Linked DNA regions of Homo sapiens. The protein of the gene in region 1 purifies or fractionates together with the protein of each later gene. This does not show direct contact. Each region holds a gene or a part of one and is shown in the gene's direction. Other genes may lie near its edges. The genes, in order: SULT4A1 and ANKRD13C.

The links.
Region 2: the proteins of SULT4A1 (region 1) and ANKRD13C purify together in Homo sapiens (affinity purification with mass spectrometry, with the first as the bait; one large-scale study listed by BioGRID). This does not show direct contact.

Annotation. Positions count from the first base shown.
Region 1 is NC_000022.11:43,855,951-43,859,766, reverse strand, and holds part of SULT4A1 (sulfotransferase 4A1), read left to right. Parts: intron 1-3,816. UniProt on the Homo sapiens protein: Atypical sulfotransferase family member with very low affinity for 3'-phospho-5'-adenylyl sulfate (PAPS) and very low catalytic activity towards L-triiodothyronine, thyroxine, estrone, p-nitrophenol, 2-naphthylamine, and 2-beta-naphthol.
Region 2 is NC_000001.11:70,295,545-70,299,360, reverse strand, and holds part of ANKRD13C (ankyrin repeat domain-containing protein 13C), read left to right. Parts: intron 1-3,099; coding exon 3,100-3,231; intron 3,232-3,816. UniProt on the Homo sapiens protein: Acts as a molecular chaperone for G protein-coupled receptors, regulating their biogenesis and exit from the ER.

The DNA of each region.
Region 1 (3,816 bases):
GCAGATATGGAGTGTTCCCATCACAGCTGAAAGTTCTGCTGCACAGCGCCAGGTAAAACCGTGATCCAGACAGTAGGAGCCCATTGTGTCTTCTGAGAAGGACCTTTCTGTTGATGACCGACTTTGTTCCTATTCATTCTTACAGCGTAGTTGGTCCTGGGACGGTGGTTGTATTAAATCCGATTGTGTCTGTGAAAATATTTTGTCCCTGTGTGTTGGTTTGATGCAATCACTGCCACTGGTTTTGTCAACAGGTTGATTTGAATTGGGTGCTCGTCCCCGAGGGGGCACAGCCCCAAAGTCATGGAGCTTGGGCTTTGAAATACGGTCCCTGGCTCAGCCAGAGCACCCACTGCCCTGAGTTTATTTTGCCCCTGGTTCCGGCCAGTCCTGAAGTGTGTGCGCATTCTCACTGATGCAGACGGAAGCTTCTGGGCCTGGGCGTGGGTGAGCCACCTGGTTTCTTTGAACCTCAGTTTGCTCATTAAAAATGAGAGGATTTGACCAGATTGATTCATTTAAGTCTTACATTTTCAGACAACTCAGGGGTTGAAGCTGAGGGGAGCTGAAGCTGAGGGGAGACTCATGGTGTGCAGGTCCCAGGCTAGATGGATGTCCTAGTTTTCTTGGTGTGTATGTCACTGTGCCTGGGAGAGACAGGTTTCAGAAGGGCTGGGCATGAGGTGATGGTGACCTTGTGGCACTTGCAGTGACATGGGGGAAGCCAGAATCCTAACACTGAAAAGTTAACTGACAAGCCAGGGTGGCTGTTCTCAGGGTCAGGTAAATGGCCTGGTAATGAGGGTTCTGAAGAGGAGGATCTCGGGAGACTGCATGGAGGAGGAGACAGGTTGGGTGGATTACCCATTACAGATGCTGTTTTGCCCTCCACCCACTTTGATTCTCAGGACGGCCCTGTGCTCTTGTGATTATTTCCTTTTTATAGATGTGAAAATGAGGGCCTAGGGAGGACAAAGGGCTGGGGTAGTGGCAGCACCGAGTGTAGATCCTGGAGAGAAACCACCCACAGGAGGGGGTAAGAGAGGCGTGGGGGTGGGAGCTAGCACCTGCCAGCGCTTCCTGGGTTACCAGTTTGTTCTGAGATGAGGGAGCATGCGGAGCCCTTTGAGCTTTACCACACAGGGTAACAAAGTGTTCCACAGCAGTGTGGTGAGTTACCTGCGTCCTATGAGGGAATGCAGAGGCCTGAAGAATGGAACGTGTGGTTTTGTACCAGAAGAACTGAGAAGTTCCTCTTTCCCCATCTTTCTCCTCTTGCTCCCTCATCCCTTCCCCTTTGTCTTCCGGCTGTTACACATACTCAGGAGGCTTGACCTGGGGAAGGGGCTGCCAAAGCAAGTGTCCTGGGTCTGCGGGGGTCACGTTTCTCCCCATCACTCAACCGGGCTGGGAGGCAAAAGCCTGCAGAATGACTTCTGGAGGAAGAAGGAGATGGGGCTGCTGGGAGCACAGCCTCCTGAGTAGTTGGCCCTGGTTGAACTTGTAGTTGGTTTGAACTCCTGGGCTTAAATAATCCTCCTGCCTTGGCCTCCCAAAGTCCTGGGATTATGGGTGTGAGCCACCATGGCTGGCCATAGTTTCTTTTGCCTTGGCCTCCCAAAGTACTGGGATTACAGGTGTGAGTCACAGTGCTTGGCCATAGTTTCTTTTCTTTCTTTCTTTTTTTTTCTTTCTTTCCTTTTTTTTTTTTTTTTTTGAGACAGGATCTTACTCTATTGCCCAGGCTGGAGTGCAGTGATGCAATCATGGCTCACTGCAGCCTCCACCTCCTGGGCTCAAGCAATCCTCCTGCCTCAGCCTCCCAAGTAGCTAGGACTGCAGGTGTGCGCCACCACACCTGGCTAATTTTTTGTATTTTTGTAGAGATAGGGTCTCACCATGTTGCCTAGGCTGGTCTTGGACTCATGGGCTCAAATGATCCTCTTACCTCGGCCTCCCAAAGTGCTGAGATTACAGGCGTGAGCTGCTATGCCAGGCCTTGGCTTGTTTAGCTTCTGCTGAAATGTTGGCTTGTTCTTTTTTCCACTGGGTAATGTGCCTGTTTTCCTCTGGCTGCCTTCAATGTTTTCTCTTTGTCTTTGATTTTCAGCACTTTGAATATGGTATGTCTAGGGTTTTTGTATGTGTGTGTTAATTATTCTACTTGGGATTCCTCTAAGCCTCTTGGATCTGTGGTTTGATGCTTTTCATTATTTTGGAAAAATTCTCAGCCATTATCTTAGAAAATGTTTCTTTTACCTCATTCTTTCTTCCTTTGAGATTCCAATTACATATATGTTAGATTGTTTGATGTTGTCCTCCAGCTCTTGGATGTTGTATTCTGTTTTCTGTTTTCTTCCCTCTTTTTTCTTTCCTTTTTTTTTTTTTTTTTTTTTGAGACAGGATCTCACTGTGCTGCTCAGACTGGCCTAGAATTCCTGGGCTTAAGCAGTCCTCTTTCCTCAGCCTCCTGAGTAGCTGGGTCTGCAGGCATACTGCTGCACCTGGCTTCTTTCTTTTTCTCTTTTTGTTCCAGTTTGGGTAATCTCTGTGGACCGATCTGTGGCTAACTGCTCCTTTCTTCTGCTGTGTCAAGTCTGCTGATGAGCTGTCAGAAGCATTCAATGTTTCTGTTATGTTTTTTTCCCTCTAGCATTTCCACTTAGAGTTTCCATTTCTCTGCTGAAATAATCCCATCTATTCATGTGTGTTGTCCATCTTTTCCTTGGGAACCTTTAACATGTTAATCAGACTTCTTAAAAATTCCATGAGTCTAATTCTGTTGATTGCTTTGTCTCTTGACAGTTTTGTTTGTGTGTGTGCGCGTGTGCCTTTTTTGTGAATAGTACCTTTTGACTGCTCAACACAGCATATTAGATAGTAGAGACTAAGGTCAGCCATATTTATGCTTGCAAATGAGGCCGGCTTTTCAACTGCTAGGCCATTAGTATAAGGAATTGAGTTAACCCCGCCTCGTTGGTCTGGTTTGGGTTCGGGTGTTGATCTGATTACCTTGAGTGACCACTGGTTTCATATTATTGTAGTGTTAGCTTGCGTTCAGTGGAGGGGCTGAGTTTCCAGAGGTTTTTTCTCAGTGTTCCTGCTCCACCTCCACCTTTTGGTCTTCCTCGTAGGTCTGAACCTTGGAGGAGTTTTGTCTGCACACTCTTGCCCCTGTGCCAGTGATCGACTCTGCTGTTATCTGTTACTTTGGTTTAGTAGCTTGGTAGGGAGGGTTTGGGGTTCTCTGTTGTGTTGTCTAGCTGCAGTCTTCTGCAGGCTCCATGTTGCTGGGTCTGGGTAGGGCTTTTTCATTGATCCTGCCCTCCTCTGAGTGGCAGCCAAACTGCCTGGATGGTAACTCTTGTGCAGGAGTTTCATGTCCCTTCTGTAGCACTGAGAATCTCTAGTAGTCAGGGCCCAGGGACAGTTTCCTGCCCCTCCCCCAAGGGCAGAGTCTTGGTTTTTCCTTTTGCCCATCTCCAGCCACATTGGGTCTTCACCAGTGCCCTGGGAGGTGACACGGTTTGCTGCCCCTCTCTCAGTGACTTAAAGCCTTTTTTCTGTAAGGGAGAAGGGTACAAGTAGGATGTTTTTCTTTTCCTACAGCCATGATACTGAGGAAGGCTCTCTCCAAAGCATGCTGCCCCCAACTCTTTCTCCTGAGCACCTGGCCTAGGTCTGGAGAAGAGCCTGTGTTTGGGTGTGAACTCTGCTCAGTGTGAGATTCTCTGGCTTCTCTGGCTTCAGAGGTTCTGTGCTGTCACATGGGCTCACCCTTGGCTTTTACCAGCATGGAAACATTTTACCTGAATT
Region 2 (3,816 bases), on another chromosome or scaffold:
AAGAGTGAAATCTAATCTCCTTAGCACGGCATGGTTCCTTTTGTCACCTGAGTTTTGCTCACCTTTCTAGCCTTTTTCTTACCTTACTATTTTAGATACCCTCATACTGCACTCTTGGCAGTTTGTCAGATGTGCCAGGCTATTTGGGCCTTTATTCCTTTGTTCATGTTCTTTCCACTTCCTGGAATGCTTTTCTTTTTGCACCCTCACACCTGTAGGGCATGCACTTGGTGTTACTTTCTCTCCCACCAAATGACTTTTGTTGTCCTTATGTTCCTATTAAATCTGGAACCATAAAGCTTCTAATGTTACATTTACTGACATGGCTTTTTTCCCTTCTATTGGTCTAAGCTCCTCAAGGGCGTGGGGTTCTTTTTGTTGTATTCCCTGTTATCTAATACAGCATCAGTACATTCTACGCTATAGGTTGGTAAACTCTTTCTGTGAAGGAAGAGATAATAAATATTTTTAGATATTAAAATATATTTGTGGGCCATATGGCCTCTGTCACAACTACTCAACTCTGCTGTTGTTAAAAGCAGCCACAGACAATATGTAAATAAATGAGTATATTCCATTATCATTTTATTCATAAAAACAGGCAGCTGATTATAGTTTGCTTACTCATATGTGAGCCTCTCAGATATTTATTAAATAATTTGACCTCTTACTTATGAAATGACAACAGGATAGCCAACTAGGCAATAAGTGAATTGGAAATAGGGTCTTGAAAGAGAAGCTAGAAGTTAAGGCTAGTAGTCCATAAGTATTTGTGGATGTCATAGTATTACCAAAGAACTGGTATTAAGGGTACCAGTTTTAAGGTATTAAGGTATGTATGTACTAGTATTAAGGTATGTATGTATACATACATATATGTATTATGTATTTTATAATGCCTACAATACAGGAAAGATAAATTTTGAGCAGTATTCCTTAGGGCAGAGAATACTTGTTGTTTATCCTAATATGTATGTATGTATAAGTAATAACTTCATTAAATGTTGAAGCAATGTAATTAATTAAAACAGCAGATCTTTTTCAGTGATGTGGTTAAGAGATAGTCTCTGATTTATATAAGAATTCTGTTCCAAAAGTTTATTGAAAATAGGATGTTTGAAATGTAAGGCAAATTTGCTCATAGACAATGGGTTATACAGTGTTCAGTTTCCAAGCTAATATATAAAATTCTACTTGATTCATAATATATTTGAAGTATAGTGTTTAACAGTTCTGTTTAACTACTGCAACCTAACTTTTTTTTAAAGAATATTGTGTTCAGAATTAATTTGGGTTACCAGGAATACATTTTCACCTATTATGGCTTTAGCAGTAACACCAAGATTTTGCATTCTTTACTTGTAGGGGTAGAGGAAATGGTACTGTCCCAGGCCCAAGCCATTGCTATTTTTTTGTTTGTTTGTTCTTTGTTTTTTTTTTTTTTTGAGATGGAGTCTCTCTCTGTCTCCAGGCTGGAGTGCAGTGGCGTGATTGATCTCAGCTCACCGCAACCTCCACCTCCCGGGTTCAAGTGATTCTCCTGCCTTAGCCTCCCGAGTAGCTGGGACTACAGGCGCGTGCCACCATGCCCGGCTAATTTTTTTTTTTTAGTAGAGACGGGGTTTCACCATGTTAGCCAGAATGGTTTCTGTCTTCTGACCTCGTGATCCACCTGCCTTGGCCTCCCAAAGTGCTGGGATTACAGGCATGAGCCACCTAGCCCGGTCGCCAATGGTATTGTTTTTGGAAATTCAGGAAGGGACTATATGGGCTGGGCACGGTGGCTCATGCCTGTAATCCCAGCGCTTTGGGAGGCCGAGGCGGGCGGATCACGAGGTCAGGAGATCGAGACCATCCTGGCTAACATGGTGAAACCCCGTCTCTACTAAAAATAAAAAAATTAGCCGGGCATGGGGGCGGGTGCCTGTAGTCCCAGCTACTCAGGAGGCTGAGGCAGGAGAATGGTGTGAACCCGGGAGGAGGAGCTTGCAGTGAGCTGAGATTGTGCCACTGCACTCCAGCCTGGGCGACAAAGCGGGACTCTGTCTCAAAAAAAAAAAAAAAAAAAAAAAATCAGAAAGGGACTCTATGTAGGTTAAAGTTAGATGGTGAAGAATAGAAAATGGGCCTCTTGGGAACCTAGAAATAAGGAGGTTTGGAGAATGAAGGCTCTAACTATTGTAAACCCTAGGGACTGTTATTATTCTCCAGACAACTCCCTAGGTTTTGCCTTTTTTCTTCCTTATAACGTCTTAAATATTAGTTAGGGTATCTTTCTTGGCCTATTATGGAATAGAATCTCATCTTATACCTGCTCACTTACTCTTCTGTACTTGATCATTTAGTCTTCTGTCCCTGAAGCAAGCACAAAACTTTCCTTTTTTCTCATATAAAAAATAATTATTGCTCAATTATTATATACCAGCACTAGGGAATATGTACAGGATAAAACCTGAAGCATGACTACTCATTAAGTTTAGAAATTACGGTTGATATTTATGGATTCCTTTCCATTTTATAAGGAATACAGAAAAGATCCTTTCTTGCTTCTTTTCCTTCCTTCCCTCTCTGCTGCTTCCCTTCTTCTATCCCTCCCTTCAGTTCTTCCTTTCTTCCACTTACAATTTATTGGGAAAGAAAGGCTCAAATGACAGTGGTGGATCTTTGCATTAAGAAGAACTAAAGTAAGATTAATCTGTATTGAAAGAAAAATATCCTTTATCTGGGTTTTTTTCTCAGATCTGTCAAGTTAATTCTTAAAGTTGTTTTTAAAAATTGCTCTATGGACTATACAGTTTTATAATGGGTAATCTAGTACTGCTTCCATTACATATCTATAACAGGATAATAGTACCGTATTTCATGTGTCCTGCTTTTATAGATTCATAATTAGTCATAATGCTAACTTAGAGAAGATATTAATATGTACAATTTAAACATCTAATTCTTTTTAGAGTAAGTAACACTTCACATTATTTAGAAACTATCCTTTTTGTCTTTAAAAATTGGTACCATTATAATTGTTGATATTTTCATATGTAGTACTAAGAACTTTTGAAAAACCTAGATTTTTATATTTAACTTTTGCTCACATCCCAGGAATCAGAGATGGAAACAGAAGAAGAGGTGGATATTTTAATGAGCAGTGATATTTACTCTGCAACTTTATCAACAAAATCAATTTCTTTCACGCGTGCCCAGACAGGATGGCTTTTTCGGGAAGATAAAACAGTATGTGCAAATCTAGATTTTTAAACTTTAAGCATTGTTCGGTATTTAATATTTCCAAAATAACGTGATGGAAATGCAAGAAGTAGCTTACAGAATTGTCTCCAAGTAGTTTTTTTCTCTCTTCCTTGAATCCAGATAAGGAATTATAATGGATGGTTAGAGTCAGAATGTGTCCTTGGAGAATTCAGGAAAGAAAGCTGAGCTCATTTGAATTCTGTGTCAGGAAGGACTCTTATTGCTAGCTGTCTTGTTATTATACAGGGAACAATGTTTTCACATGATTCCATTATATTTCTAGTGCTTTATTCGATAAGAAGACTACAAAAAGGGATAAACTTGACTCTATTTCCCTGAACCTGTTTGTCTCCCTACTTTAGACTTCTCATTTACTTAATATTTTTTTCTTGTATTCTATACATATGAGTAAGATTAAATAACCTTACATTTCTGCAACACTGTAGAATTGTTAAATCAAATCTCGGGGGAAGTTTCCCCATTAGTGTAAATTATTTCCATAATTCCCATTGTATCTGTCAGCAAGAGGTTATATAAGACTATTCAAATATATATTCGGAAAATTTTGAG